2 separate regions of the Homo sapiens genome follow, and region 1 is linked to region 2. The links come from fine-mapping of genetic effects on gene expression. A gene starts in region 2. The other region holds a variant in brackets. All regions are shown on one strand. Distances are between the middles of the regions. Region 1 overlaps IPO8 (importin 8). Region 2 holds the start of IPO8 (importin 8).

What was found. PIP is the estimated chance that this variant, and not a neighbour inherited with it, causes the effect. A credible set is the group of variants that fine-mapping cannot tell apart.
Region 1: its variant is the best candidate, but not a certain one, in a credible set for the expression of IPO8 in transverse colon (GTEx, PIP 0.55).

What each region holds. Positions count from the first base shown.
Region 1 is chr12:30,629,749-30,638,094 of GRCh38, forward strand. IPO8 (importin 8) reads right to left here. Exons shown (of 25, transcript NM_006390.4): 22 at 7,234-7,439; 23 at 4,335-4,538; 24 at 2,147-2,263; 25 at 1-1,209. The coding sequence ends at 1,112. Among named protein-coding and RNA genes, the nearest start is that of IPO8, 62 kb to the right of the region's middle. The variant G/C (reference allele first, on the strand shown) is at 3,887.
Region 2 is chr12:30,691,946-30,700,291 of GRCh38, forward strand. It overlaps IPO8 (importin 8), which reads right to left and starts at 3,924. Exons shown (of 25, transcript NM_006390.4): 1 at 3,619-3,924. The coding sequence starts at 3,702. RefSeq lists a silencer at 3,674-3,723 and an enhancer at 3,814-4,313.

The sequences.
Region 1 (8,346 bases), 62 kb before region 2:
TGAGAAGTCAAACTGAGCTATAATAAAGACACAAACAAATTAGGTAGGAGAAAATTCAAATAGGTGAGAAAGCAAGAAGTTAGATTTGTTTGGGTCTTTTTCCTAGATTAAAAAAAAATATTATAAAATGCTTTGGACCCTAGTCCAACATAGCTGGAATGATAAGTTATTTAAAATACAAGTCCCCATCCAGAAAGACAGTGTGCTTACGTAGCACCTGTCTCTTAGAAGTTCAATGTGCTTTAGGTATGATTATCAATTAATTGCATAATTACATTATTCAGAATATACTCAGACTTACTGTTAACTCCAGTGACTAAAGAGCCCCTGCCACTTGCTGCCAAGAAAATGAGTCCTGAACTTACAAGGTTAGGAGTGAAACTGATATGTGTATTTGTTGACCCCAAAAGAAATACCACCCCTTTTCAAGGCAGAAAAAAATGAGAGAAGAGGGAGTAAGACACTTCTTTAAAAAGCCACAAAACATCTTATGAAAAACCACAGCCAGTGCATATTTTATAATACAACCCCTGAAAAAAGCCCCCCAGCAGCAGGGTGAGCAGAGGGAGCCGTGAAGATTTTGAAACCAGAGTGACTTGCAGTAACTGCCTAACAATAAATTCACAGAGTAAAATGCAGAATAGTTGACATATAACCAAGGTTTATGTTGTATCTAGAAATATGTTTTATGCTTTAAAAAAAATTGCAATGCACTCCAAAAATTTTTTTCTGATAATTCATGTACAACAGAAGGCACTGTTATCCGCATAAATCCATTGATTCTGCATGGCAAAAACCTGAGACGTGCAAGTCTATCCAATCCTCTAAAACAACCTTGGGCATTCAGCCTTTGGAACATATGGGTTGTCCTTTTCCGTCCAATGATTGTTTTTCTTTCATTTCATACTTACAGTAGCTGTTTAAAATATATATTTCAGGGTGACAAAGGTCAAAGGGGAAAGAGTAGATAAAAGTGCTGCCTAATGCCAGATGGTAACTGGCACAGCAGGAGGGCCCTAAAAGCAGCCCCTCATTTCATCCCCTTGACCCTCACACTCCTCTTGTGAAATAAAATGCAGCGATGACATTTGGTCAGCTGATGTTCTTTCCTTCAGTTGTTGCTGGGCACAGTCCCAAAATTAAATGCGGAGAGGACTCCTTTGTTTTCAAAGGTGAAGCCTCCCTGTTGTTCAATCTTCTTCTTTGCCTCTAGCATTTTTCAAAAGAAAAGGGGAGAAGAAAAAAAAAGAATGCTTAAGGTGACAAAGTTGGAGATGACTCAAAGGAGCCAGATTCTTTATATGCTTAGAACTGTGAAAGAATGTGACTGGTAGTATTAGTTATCCTGCCAAAGAATAACTAAGAATAACAGACCTATGTCAATAAGGTGGTATGTTCACTACCATCGGAAAATCTGCAAAAAACGAGTGAAAAGAAAACACGTCTCAGAGGTGGATTCTACTTCACTGTCTCTACTGCTGAAAGGGGGCCCAGACTTCTCATATCAGGAAGGCTGACTGAGAATCTGCACAGAACTGAAAATCTAAGTCCATGCAGAAGAGCCAGCATTCTAAACTCTAGATGTCTAGTTTGCCATGTTTCCTACTAAAATTTTTTTGTAACTACAAAATCTTTTCCAATGACAATCTACAAGTAACTACAATAATCAACACAGAGTAATTCCTCCAGCTTAAAAACTGAAAATCAACAACAAGAAACAATGTCAAATAAAGCCCAACAATGAGAAATAGAGAGCATTCCATTTCCAGGAATACAAGCTCCTTGCAAGAATTCGTCAAGTCCCTTTGGCCCACGGTTGAAATGTTTAGGGGAGTGATCCAACTGATTAAGTCTCCCTCGGCAAGACTTATCCCAACCCTTACTTTGTACCTTTGCCTCCAACATAGGATAAGAATGTGAATGAGAACACCACTAGGAAATACATATTAATGTGCAGGTTTTTGCAAAGCTAAGACATCATGAGTGATTAAAACAATCATACAATAATGACAATTCCTTATTATCTTAAAGGGTAAGTCTCTAACAATTTCAAAAACAGTGTTTAGGTGCCACCTGGCTCATCAAATAAGGCTGTCTGTTGGCACTCTGACACATGCACTCCACTCTGGAGGTTACTCTGGCTGACCTGCCACCGTCCGTCGGTGCTCTGCCAGTGTGTACACCTCCTGCAGTGCTGTCCTCTGATCCTCGCTGAGTGGTGCCATCAGCAGCTGGTACCAGGCTGCATCTCGACTCTGCACAGCTGTTGCATTTTGGGAGGAAAAGACAGGAGGGTACAGCGACTATTAATTTACAGAACAAGTAGTAACATGATCAAATTACAAAGAAATTATCCCAGACAGTAAGAGACAAAGAGTACAGTACTACAACACACACAAGGTAATGAAACTTACGCCAACAAAGGATTATTTCTGAGTACCCACTTAGTACCCAGCTATGTGGGAAATCAAAGGAAGGTTAGGACATTGCAAATCTCTAGTCTGCCTAGTTCTCTGTCTCCTTTGCTGTCTTCTATGGATGTTCTCTAAAATCCAGAACACCAGTACTCACTTGTTACCATTTTCCTCTGGAATTTTCATACTACCTGCAGCTTTAGTATTGCTACCACCCCAAGGATTCAAATCTGTACCTCTAGGAAAAACCTTCCCCTAAGCCTCCTGGACTGTTCCATTTGAATAGCTCATCTCAAACTCAACACAACTAAAACCAAATTTAACAATTTCCTCCCAAACCTTCTATCTCTCCATTTATCTCACCAGTTCTATTAGTCTCCCAGTCCACTACTGTGCATCCTTAACATCCCTGAGCATGCCCTCTCCACACCCAAAGCTCTGCTTCTTTCTTAATGTCTTTCATCTGTATGCTGCTTTCCATCAAATGTCACCCTCCCCATTCCAGGTCTCTATACATCTAAATTAATAAAGTGAACCTCTAACACTTGGCTCCCACATCTAGTCCTTTCCAGTTTTTTCTGCACATCATCCATCACCGGGTAACTCCCCTGAAGTGAATTACCACATCTAAAAGGTCACCGCCTCAGAACACAACTTTCAACGCTATTCCAATGGGCAATGGGATGGACCACCTCAGTCCAGAATTCAAGGCCACTATAGCCCAGCCCAACTGCGTTCCTTCACAGTCTTTAAGCAGTGGCCCCTACATGCTGGTTTAAAGTTGCTTGTCACTTGAGAAGCATCTTTAAAAATACATCTCCTGAGATCCTACTCAAGACCTAAAAGCCTCCTTGGTGATTATGACACACCCATGTCTGGAACTACACTAGGCCACATCCTCCATATTTCCATCTCCACGTTTATGCTGTTACGTTTCCCATGCTTTGGAATATAGTTTCCTGTGTTCTCTGCCTCCAATTCCTCTGAATTTCAATAAGAACATCTAGGTAGTTTTTTCTTCATTAATGTTATTTGTAGCAACACTAAAAAATGCCAATATATTAAGCTAATATTGCCTTATTAGTAAAAACATTTACATGTAAGGATGTTCATTTTAATAACCCTCATAATGGTAAAAACATTGGAAACAATCTTAAATGTCCCACAGTGGAACTAAATTACAATGTAACTATGGAAATACTATCTAACCATAAAACAAATAATCTATATTAATGAGATTTAAAATAATTTATTTGATTAATAATTTTCTAAATATCCTCATTGGCTTGTTTTTATTCTGTAAATTTTCCATTTCCATTTTCTACTAGGTTACTGGTCTTATGTATCTGAGGATGGCCTCTGTACACTGTGTACATTATGCCTATTATGCATATGTGGCAAATATTTTCTCCCCCCGAATCATTTATGAGTCCTGTAACTGTAATTATACTGTTCTTTGTTGTATAAAATTG[G/C]CAAATTACTTACAAAGTAAAAAGTCACCCTCTTACGGCAGCAATTTCATTCTAGGGATTGTGAATAACTAGTAGGTTGTTAGCCACAATTTTTAAGCAATGTATGCCTGAAACACTTCATTCTTTGCTATAAAAATGCTTGCCCATTTATGCCTAAAGGATGAACAATATACACAGATACTCCACATATTACTTTTGCAAGGATAACATACAGGCTCACCCTGCTACTTCTCAATGATGAAAGCTGCTAGGATTGGGTGATAGGTGTTTCATTATTTTAATTTCTATCATTTCATGTATGTATGTTTGGGGATTTCTATCATAAGGAATAAACAAAAAAATTTTTAAAAGAACCTAGACCAATCTTGGGCAAATATCAAAACAGGAAGAAATGAAGAAAGAGTTTAGAAAAAAAAATATCAGAAGATGTGGGGAAGTAAAGACATACTTATCAGAGCTTGTGTAAAAAACTGATATTCATCCACACTATTGTCAAGGTCAAGTGGAGTACTGAACCCCTCAAGCGCGGTTTCTTCCAATACTTCTTCATCCCAGTCATCATCTTCCTCCTCCTCATCTTCACCTCTTCCATTATTTGACTGCATTGCTTGAGCAGTTACATTTGTCTCCTCTTCATCACTTGAAATCTCCTCTGTGAACCCATTAATTATTTAAAAGGAATCAAAACACATAAGGACAAAATATAAAACTTCACGACAAAAACCAAAGACTATAAAACTACACTCTGGAAAGGAAAAAATCTTCCACAAAATTTTAATAAAAATAAATCTTATCCCTGGTCTAAAGAGGAGAGTCAAAAAATAAAAATAAAAAATAAAATAAATAAACCTTATCTTTACTGTAGAGTTTGCTAAGTTGAGAATGTCCTTATCCTCCTCACTGAAAACAAGTTCCCTAAACCTGTTATCCAGATGAACATTACTACTGTTAGGCTATGCAAGTTCATTAATACAAGAATATTATTCAATTGCAGATTTCAAAATTACCTTTGTTTAAAAAAAAAGTGACTGTACGGTCAGTGCATGTGTTTTAAACAATGACTTCCTATTGAGAATTCAGTCCTCTTAATTAACTGAGTTGATTATAAAGTGCTTAGAAATGCCCAAATGAGATCATTTCTGCTAGTAGAAACAGTAAAAATACAGATCCAGCCATCCCACTTCAGGATATATATCTAAAATATTTTAAATCAATACGTAGAACAGATGTCAGCAGCCCTGTGTTCATCGCAGCATTATTCACAATAGCCAAGTTACAGAATCAACCTAAGTGTCCATCAACAACGGATGAATAAAGAAAATGTGGATTCTTTAAAATGAAACACTATTCAGCTTTTAAAAAGGTAATTCTGTCAATTCCAACAACACTGATGAACTTGGACATTATGATAAGTGAAATAAGCCAGGCACAGAAAGACACATACTGCCTGTTCTCACTTATACATAGAATCTAAAACAATCAAACTCATAGAAGTAGAGAATAGAATGGTGGTTACCAGAGGCTAGAGGTGGTGGGAATATGGGAATGTTGGTAAAAGGGTACAAAGTCTCAGGAAGAATTAGGTTTTTGTTTTGTTTTGTTTTGTTTTGGTATCTATTGTACAGCATGGTGAATACAGTTAATAGTATATGTACATTTCAAAATTGGCAAGATTGTAAATTTCAAATGTTCCCACCATTAAAAAGGGTATTTAAGGTGATGGATATATTAGTTTGATTTAATCATTCCGCATTATATTCACAAATCATAACATCACTTTGTACTCCATAAATATATAATTTGCTAATTTATAATAAAAAGAAATAGCAAAAATGTAAAGAAAAATAGCTACATGTCGCTTGAAAAGTTAAAAACTTGAACTACATTATGTATCACCATGGATTCTGTATCTATTTTCAGTGTCAATCTGTTCCTAGCAGTTAGATTGTAACTGAAATACTGGAACAGGAAGGCAGTAAATGCAGAACAAAAATCAAGATAAGAGAGAAATCCTGGAGTAAACCCAAACCAGGTAATATTAACCTAAAACTAGTTCTATTAGACACACCATATTGAAGCAGGTAGATTGAACTAGGTAGTTTTAGGAATAAGGCACTTAACCAGAGTTTGGACCAAATACACGAAAAAATGCATGGCAAATTATAACTATTAATACAAAAAGACTGAGAAATACCTCCACTAGTTAATCATTCCATACTTTAGTAGGAAGTACAAGAAAGTGTGGGATATTACCAGAAAATTTTCCCTCAAGCCATACAGTATAAGCCAATAAAGAGTTGCCAAAACAAGAAATTAGAGATCATAACATACTGGAAAAAATAAAAGAATTCTACAACTGTTGACACACAGTTAGCTAAAAACAAAACAAAACAAAACAAAAATCACACATGCAACACTTCTAATAAAGAAGCATTTCTTCAAAAGACCTACACAGATTTCAGAAAAACAAATTAGAAGCTGTATTTTGTGCTGTGGAGGGGAGAAAAAGGGTAGTTTATAATCTCTGGTATATGAACAAACTGGGATGATGCCAGTTAAAAGTGTTTTAAATCTATCCATGCTAAAATCACAGAATTTAGCATCAAAAATAGAGCTGTATGTTTACCAGGAAGAGTTCTGATTTTTCTCAGCTAACAAAGTATCTGTTTTTAACCAGGAGAGGAAAAAATCCACCTGGAATAGGAGAATGCTACTTCCTAGTCTCTAGCAAGTAGCTCCGCAATCTCATCATTAAACAAAACAAAGGTCTAATATTCAACTCTAACAATCTTATTCTGATTCTCAAGTATATCCACTTCATTTATGTACTTTACCTTAATTTATATTTAAATCACAAATATGGACGTCTCTCAAATGTAATTTTTGCTAATGAGTCACCTAAGAACCATTCCAGAAAAAGAAAAAAAAGACACTCTCTACTAATCTGTGGTACTAACACTTCAGCTCTTAATGTAATGATTCATTTAACTCATGGCTACTGCCTTGATGAGGCTGTTAGCACAAACAAGAAAGTTAGATACTAGATTGCTAACTTACAGTCAAGACCATTTGATTGTTATAAATGTGTTTCCTAATGTGTAACAGCATCTATTAGGCTCCATAAAAAAAACCGCTGAGTATATTAGGTGTCAGAAGGTGCATAAATCTAAATTTATATAGCATGATACAATTAATAGCAAGTCAACCAAGCCCAAAATATTTGTTATATGTGTAGCAGGCCGAAGAATGTAAATCTGTTTAATGTCTCCATATAGACTAGTATTCATATAAAATGCATACACAAATCAAAATCAATTGTAACATTAATTTCAATTAGAAGACTTTACCATTTTCTTCCATATCAGCTTTCTCTGCTTTTGAACGATCTTCCCGGTTTACCAGTTGTCTAGTAGCACAGACCTGCTTTAGGCCAAGGAAAAGGAAAAGAATTGAGGGAACAATCTGTCCCACCACAGCATCTACTGCAGGAGGTCGATTTTGCAATTCCAAAAGGATACTCAGTCCTATTATACACATCTTCCGGTCATGATGCCTGCAAATTTTGAAGAAAAAAAAAATGTAGACATGAGAAGTGGAATAAAGAACAAATTCTGGAGAAACTACAAAAAGAAATGTCCAAGGCATACTCTAAGGTTCATCTGTTGGTATCATACAGAGACATTCCCTGTTTTGTACTGTATGAAATGCTATGTAAATCAAATTTTGTAAACCAATTATTTTCAAAGACCTATTGGGAGTCTGCAATTAACATGGTGAATCTTGCTGTAATATCAATTTATGATTAATATAAATGTTATATATGGGCCTCGGCATAAGGAGTTTTAATAAAGCAGAAATACCTATATTTGACAGCATAAAAGTCCTATACAATGGTTGGGGGGAATGAAGAGTTTCTTAGACTCTTCCAACATTAGATTGATCTACAAGGTTTCTCAGCACACATAATCTACCCAAACCCTAAGAGGTGAAAGATGTTTCAAAAACTCAGCATCTAGTAAGATAGTAAGCTGAACTTAATTTAAGCAGTCTACTAAACTCCTGTGCTATAAAATAGCATAAGAAAAATATAAGGACAAGGAAAATTTTATTCAGAAAGAAAAAAAGTTTGACCAGTAAACATTAGACATTTTTCTACTAAATGCTTCCTCTAAGTTGCTTAAAACTAAAAAATTAAGAACTAAAAGATTACATTGGCAAAACATTCTTAAAATTGTGTGAATAAAAAATTCACTTGCAGCGATTCAATGTGTTTAAAGTGCGAATAATATAACAAATCCAATAATGAATATTCTACAGGCTTCTGTTATTCTTCATTATTTGCATTCCTTGATTGATTCAAGTCACTAATGCCCAACTAGTACGCTATAACAGAACTGTACTTGACCTGAGGACCTTCTCATCCATGCAACCCCTAAATACATGCCACACGGATCACAGCA
Region 2 (8,346 bases):
TAAATTCTTTTTTATCCATAATTGAAACCATCAGAATTTCAAAGCAGTTTTTAAGAAAACAGATTTGTTCTAACAACCGTTGATAGGAGGCAAAATTAACACAGATTCACCCAGCCTTCACCTTCTACATATGTATTATAACTCATGTTTATCTTTGTAAATACTGAAAGATCTTGTCATGAATCAAAGATTAAAACATCTATATAGTTTATTCTAATCATAAAAAAACTGACTTCCGTTATTTGTTTAAAAATCTTATTCCACACATACAAAATAACCTTTACACTTAAATAAATGCTACTTATTTGAAAGTAATATACCTATTGCAGAGACTTTTATGTCAACACTGTTGCCATTGTACAGATTTTGAAACTCCTCTTTTTGCAACTGTTTGCCATTTTAAAAAATTTCAGAAACCTTGTCTTCTTTCAGCATTGATTCATTCTATATTAACTTGGCCAGCTAAAACATTCAGAGATATAGTCAGATATATTTTCATACTACTTTACTCAGAAATAGTTACTCAATTTCTTTGTGCCTCTTCAGGCTTCGAGTTTCTAAAAAATAAATAAGACTAATTTCTCAATGATTTCCTGAGGATATTTTGTATCTGTGAAGTTTTCTGCAAATACGCAGTTTGCTTAACTAAATTCTGCATTTATGAGAACTCATAAAGCAAAAAACTGATGTCTCCTCCCATCCTCTGACTCACTGCTCCGCTGCATTAACCTTTCTAGTCCTCCAGCATGCCAAGTTGAGGGCCTTTTCTGAACCGATATTCCCTCTCAGTCCTCCAGCACGCCAAGTTGAGGGCCTTTTCTGAACTGTTGTTCCTCTCTCTGCTCTTTGCCTGGCCCATTCCTTCACAACATCCAACTCTCTACTCAATGCCATTCTTCAGAGAATGGCTATACATCCCAACACTCTTGCTCGGGCTTTACTCTCCACAGCACTTATGACCTGAAATTATATTAGTTACTTGCCTGTATCCCCAGCTCCATGGAAACAAACTCTTATACCAATATCTGCAACATAGTAACTTAATAAATATTTCTGTGCTATTTACATAAACAAATTATCTTAATAAAGGGTAATGAAAATTGCATGTACACATGCATGGAAAGCAGAGATTCAAAAGCTTGGCAATCAAAGTAAAAACTTATTTCCCTACCGAGGCCATGTGAAGGATAATTTATTAAAAGAGGACACCTTTCTGGATGAATTACTTAAGCAAGGTACCTACCCATTCCTATTCCTCTATGCTGCCTCTAATGGGACTTCTGGTCTATAGAAAATGAGGAAGATGTATAGGGTTCGCTCAATATCCTGAGATAAAACTACAAATACATTTTCCCACAGAAACAATATCACAAATAGCAGTCAGAAAACTACTCACTAGTAACAGAAAAATGCTGGCCTGAAAAAAATATATAGCTCCAAATGAGAATTTATCCATTGGAATATAGGCTGTGGTGCAGAAGCTGCTTATTTTTCTAAACGGCAATTGACAGATCCATCAGTATACCGCAGAAGCTGCTCCCATTCCCTATGCAGAACATACTTGCTGAGGGGAGACCTAGACTAAAGTCGAAGAGGTGGACCATAACCACTTATGGTGATTTACCCACTCATTTATCCAACAAAGTCGGATGTTACAGTGGTGGCAAAGGACAAGCAGGCAAAACCCATCATCATAAGCATGTTTTACTACACTGTTAGGTGACATTATATTTTGTTCTATTTACAGCCAATTCAAAAAACCTTAAAGCATTTCACTATGCTTTATATAAATTATAAATGCTAAATGAGTGGTATAGCAATAAGCTACCTTTAGAAATTGCTGGGGAAACCACGGTCTGTGATGAGGTGGGACACTATGGGGCAGGGCAGAGTGATGATGGAATGGATTTGGATTGAACTACCATCAAGAGTCTACGGCCATACCACCCTGAACGTGCCTGCTTTTGTCTGAAATACCATGGGAAAAAAAATAGGATTGGGTCTTAAATGTCTCCTAGTTCTGCAGGCTTTCTCATATACTTTTTCCACTTCTATAACATCAACTGTACTTATATACTGATGAATCAGAAAGAAATGAAGGTTAGGTGAAGGGCAGGGAAGTGTAACCTGATATCAAAGGAACACCTGGCCTCATTGTGAGAAGGGGGTCATAAACAGGCCAACTCCCCTGTTCATATTAGTAGACTGCAAATTCAGCTCCTGCTTTGTTCTTCCTAACTAACCCCTGGATTACTATTCTTCCAGCCAGCCAACATACAGTACTTTTACTCTGCAAAGCCTGGGACAGGTACTGACTTTAACTTCCCCCTATTCTAAGTGACAGTCCATTTCTTTTTCAGGCACCAGTGCATTATCTTTGGGCATTAGTTCAACCCAACCTCCTCTCCATTGGCAGTGTCTTCACTCTCCCTTTTATCTCTGGGGAATCCTGCATTTATACCTACTCCAAACTCCACCTAGGTTTCCTATTAAAATAATCCCTTTCAAAGATTCCCAACACGCAGCTTTTTAAAGTCAATTCCAACAGAAACATTTACTTAGGACAGTCACACTTCAGTCACACTTCGGGAGGCACAGAATCACCTGGGGGAGCTAGTTAAAATACAACTGGTCCCACCCCCACAGTTTCTGATTCGTTAAGTCTGGACTGAAGCCCCGTAATTTGCATAATTTGTAAGTTCTCAGGTGATGCTGAAGCTCCAGGTCCTGGGCAACGCTTTGAGAACAGCTGATTTTGGAATATTTACATTTTACAAGTCATCACAACCTAAAACAGCTGTTGCTCCATCCCAGTGGTAGCTCTTAATCCCTACTTTTTAGTAAGAGGTCTGTGATTCTTAAGTACCGGTAGGGAAGAAGAAATAAGCTGGAGTTTGGGATCATTAAAATTTTGAAGTGTGGGGGTAACGCTGGAAAGACGTCAAGGCTAATTAGGAAGAACAGGAGACGGAGAAAAGAAAGAAGTCTTACACATTTTAGCATTCATAAGAAATTTCTCCAACACATCTTACTTTGATGTGTCTTAGATAAAGCAGTATCACCATGAAAACTGCCTATTCTTCCCAGAGCACTCTCCCAACAGCACTGCCCAGCGCTCCGCAAAACTCGGCCAATCGGTGTCAAAACAGTCCTGCCAACCCGACAGGAGGAGGCGGTGGGCAGCGTGCTCCACAGCAACACCTAAAAAGGGCTGGGTTTGGAAAAAAGCTGAACTCAGATTTGAACTGTAAGTAAAATTCCCACCTGCTCCCCAAGTCCGCGCACTTAAGGAAAATAAATCACACCCTGAAAACACTAGCACAGGTTGCAAAAACTGCTTCTTGCGGACCAAGTAGGCAGAACAAACTGCCCTGGAGAAGGGAGACGACACGAAAAGGTGCAAAGGTGGCCAACAGGTGCGCGAGCTGTTCGGCAAAGATCCTGGGAGCCCTGCTCCACTGGACCGGGGGGCAGCGGGGTCGGAGAGCGGGACCAGCCGTGAGGCGTCAGCCCCAGCCCGGTGGGGGTGAGGACGAGGGGCGCCGGGGAGAGGGAGCCCGGCCAGCCGGCAGGGGCGCCCCTTCGGCGGAAGAGGGTCGCCGAAGACCCTCTCCTCACCTGGTTGAGCTCGTTCTCGGCTGCAATCCGCAACTTCGGGTCGATGGTGCCCTTCAGCGCCTGGATGATCCGGTTGAGGTCCATCTCCCCGGGTGGGGGCTCCGCGGCCCCCGGAACAGTAGGCCGGACTGCAGCTTTAGTTTTCTTTTGACCCTCTCAGCCTCCTCTTCCGCGACCCCTGGATTACCTCACACCCCACCCCCCGCCACCGTCGCCACCTGCGGCCACTTGCTGCGCCACTCTGACTCCGCGCCCCCTGTCCTCCCTTTTTCCCCCCCACAACTCGCTCTCCATTCACCGTTTTACGACAGCCGGTGGGAGGCGGGAGAAGGAAGAAGAGGAAGCAGAGCTTCCTTTACGGCGGCCTCTTCCCCCGGGCGTGATGCTATGACCGCCTCCCGTCGGCGGCCGCCATGCTGCTGTACGGAAAACGGCCTAGGCTTCTTTCCCGGAAAGGAACCCGCGCTCCCGAACTCAGGCAGGCGGCCGCTATGCTTCCGTACGGTAAACAGCCTCCCGCCTCTTCCCAGGTGAGGAAACTTGAGCTGGCCGGGAGTCTGCTTACAGCTGCTTCCAAATTAAGCATATCTGGATGGTGTGACACTTTTTGTTAGTCCGAGAACTGTATGGGCATCGCAACTGGGCCTGTTCCAAGATAGACTTGTTGGGACCTTCAAATCATGTACCTTACAGGAGGACAGGGTTCCTCCGTGTGTGGGAGTCATCGTTCATTCATTCATTCGCTTTCACTGAACATTTGTTAAACATATATTTTTGAACCAGAGTACTAGGATTTTTAGGTACCACATTATAACAAGATGAATTCCATGCAAGTTAATGTGAAGGAATTCACAACCTGATAGATGAGACAAATATAAACAAAAAAAATTTACAGTGTAGAAATGATAGGGGAGTGCTGGGAAGGGAAGAGCGTGGTCCCTTTAAATGATAGGGATGGGCGAAGTGAAGTGCTGGGTAGAGGAGTGTGTGGTCCCTTGCTAGGGCTCCACGCCCACCGACCTAGGTGAGGACTGACACTCCTGCCTTCCAGCCCAAATGTTGCATTTCCCAAGACCACCCTGGCCTGCCACTCCCCCATACTGTGCCTATGAAAACCCCAGACCCTAGCAGGCAGGTACACAGGCAGCCAGACGTCCAGAGGAGCATAAGGGTGGAAGAAGAGGAGCTCGCTGGCACATCCGCAGGCCATTCACGGGCAGAACGATGCGGAGGTTGGCCTGGGCAGTCGGAAAAGAGCCCGGGCCGCCAAGCGGCCTAACTCCAGAGGAAAACCATTTCCCTTCTGGGTCCCTCATCTGCTGAGGGCTACTTCCACTCAATAAAACTTTGCACTCATTCTCCAAGCCCACGTGTGATCCAATTCTTCTGGTACACCAAGGCAAGAACCCAGGATACAGAAAGCTCGCTGTCTGTGCGACAAGGTAGAGGGTCTAATTGAGCTGGTTAACACAAGCCCCCTAAAGGCAAACTGAAAGAGCATCCTGTAACACACACCCACTGGGGCTTCAGGAGCTGTAAACATTCACCCCCAGACTCTGTCAAGGGGTCGGAGCCCCACAGCCTGCCGGTCTGTATGCTTCTCTAGAGGTCTGAGCAGCGGGGCACTGAAGAAGCGAGCCACACCCCCAATGCACGCCCTGTGAGGGGGACAAGGGAACCTCTCCCATTTCAGAAAGACAAAGGTCACAGAAACTGAAAACTACATCCCTGAGAGTTTTATGAAAAATTTTCAGACCTTCTCAAAAATGTAGTGAAAGGTAAGCAGAAAAGTTATACTGTTTCTATCCACTGTGGCCATATCTGGCGCCACAATTTCAATGGCATGAAAATATCAAGGAGCTGGTTCTTCCTGAGGTTAACCCAGAAGAGAGGGTTCTAATTACATTTAATAAAGATGATGATGTGGGCAAAACACAGCTGAGGGGCTGTGATCTTTTCAGGAGCAGATAATTAAGATAGATTGGGTCAATTAACTGAGTTCAATTGAGAGAGTAGAAAACATGTGGCTGAAAACTTGGTGGCTTGAAAGCTTCCCCCTCAGTTGGATGCAAAAGTGCTTCACAGTGAATTTAACATGTCTAATTGCTTCCAGTATTGCCCCTCTTTAATCCATTATTCACACTATCATCAGAAGAAAGTTTCTGAAAAGTTAATATTACTATGTCTCTTCCTTGATTTCTCATCAATTTCAAAATAAAATATAAACTTAGCACTCCAGAGTCTTATGAACACTATTTCACTAAACCACTCTCTTGGACATCATGAATGTCTAAAAAATTTTTTATCTCTGAAAATCTTAACTCCAATATCCTCTTTTATAATTAGAACTAATTCTTCCATTTCTCTCTTCCTCAAAAATTCTAAGCTTGTTTTCCAATTCAATCACTACTTCAGTTCTTAGTCTATCCATTACTCACTACACATCATTCTCTGCTATTAAACCCCCAATTCAGCTTCTTAACTCTAGCCTTGACCCACTGTGCAAACTGATATCAGATGTATTCTTTAATCAGATGCAACCATCCTATTCCTATTCCTTGCCTTTAATCAGCAACATCTTCCATTCCCTCAGTGGCGTTTCAACTCTCAGGACTCTTCTCAAGCTCCCTACGCCTTCTCACCAAACCCTGCAAAGATGAGCAAAACCCTCAGGCTCAACTCAACAACAAATTCATCTCCGCTTATCCCTCTTCATCTCCTCTGCAGTCTGAACCCCATTCTCTCCCATCTCCTCCAGGACCCTGTTCCATAAATCTCTCCTCTCTTAAATACATTTTTTCATTAAAATAAATTTTAGTCATTATAATGTGCTCATTGTTGACAATGTGTAAGTTTTTTTCGTACTTTTTCAGCCTCTTTTCCTCCACTGATTCAACCTCAGCCTAAAAACATTTCCCCCAGCAAAAAAATAATCTTCAGTAATGCTAATTATTGCTCATTCTTTTCCACTTCATTCCAAAGAATGGTCTTCATTCACTGTGTCAGCTTACTTCCCATTCATGCTTCAACCACCTATCCCCAGGCTTCTCCCCCTCATTTCCCACTAAAACTGCCAAGCAAAGATGAACACCGACCTCTTTAGGGGGTATACCAACTGCAAGAGACATTTTTAGTTCTCAACTTAAATTTTCTCTCTCTCGCGCGCGCGCGCGCGCGCGTGTGTGTGTGTGTGTGTGTGTGTGTGTGTGTGTGTATGTATAGAGAGAGAGAGAGATTGAGAGATTGGGGGAGGGCGTCTCACTTCCATTGCCTAGGTTGTAGTGCAGAGGCATGATCACTGCTCACTGCAGCCTCGACCTCCTGGGCTCAGGTAATTCTCCCACTTCAGCCTCCCAAGTAGCCGGGACTACAGGCACATGCCACCACGCCCAGCTTTATTTTTAGTAGAGACAGGGTTTTACCACATTGCTCAGGCTGGTCTCAAACTGCTAGGCACAAGCAATCTGGCAGCCTCAGCCTCCCAAATTAGGATTACAGGTGTGAGCCACCACACCCAGCCTCTAATATCCGGTATCATATTTCATACTATTTTTAAATTATCTCTTTTCTTGTTTTCTCTTACAGAATACATTCCTAACCCTTTGATTACTCAATCGCCCAAGTCTTCGACGCTTCTCAGGACTCTGTCCTCAGCCATCTTCTCTTTCTCATCCACCCATTTTTCAGTAATTTCATCCACTTACATAACTTTAACCATCAACTAAACAAAGATAGCTTACAAAACTAGTTGTAAGATCTCTTCCCTTAAACTAAATATATCCAAATGCCTATACATTTCTACCAATATCTATCCCTCAAATCACTTAAGGCACATGTCTAAAACTGAACTCAGCACTGAAGATGATAGATTGGAGAAGGGAGAGACTTAAGGTAGTTATTCCAATAACATAAAAGGAGAGATCAAAAACGGTGACACCACCAAACGCTGGTGAGGATGTACAGAAACTGGATCACTTATATGTTGGTGGTAACATGTACAGTGATACAGCCTTTCTGAAAACAATTGGGCAGTTTCTTTAAAAAACTGAATATGCAACTACCATATGACACAGCAATTGCACTCCAGAGCATTGGTCCTAGACAAATGAAGACTTGTGCTCATAAAAAAAACCTTGTGAGTGTATATGCAGCTTTATTCATCATAACCCAAATCTGGAAACAATCCAGATATCCTTCAGTGGGTGAATGGTTAAATAAACATGGTACATCTATACCATGGGATACTACTGAGCAACAAAAAAAAAGATACATGTAGCAACCTTGATGAATCTTCTGAGAATTACGCTGAGGGAAAGAAGCCAATCCCAAAGGTTGCATCTTGTCAAATGCCATTTATATAACATTCTTAAAATTTAAAAAATATAGAAGGATCCATGGTTGCTAAGGGTTAAAGTGGAGGTGGTGGCAAGGGGGAAGTGGGTGTGACTGTAGAAGGGCAATATGAGGAATTCTGATGATGGAAATGTTCGTTTCTTGACTGTATCAATGTCCATATCCCAGTTGTGATGTTGTACTATAGTTTTACAAGATGTTACTGTTGAAGGAAACTGGAAAAATCGTACATAGGATCTATCTGTATCATTTCTTACAACTTCATGTGAATCTACAATTATATCAAAATAAAAATTTTACCCAAAGTACGTAATTAAAAAGAGCTGATGTTCCCATGAAAACTTTGTATGCTTTGGACAGACTCACTGAAGACAA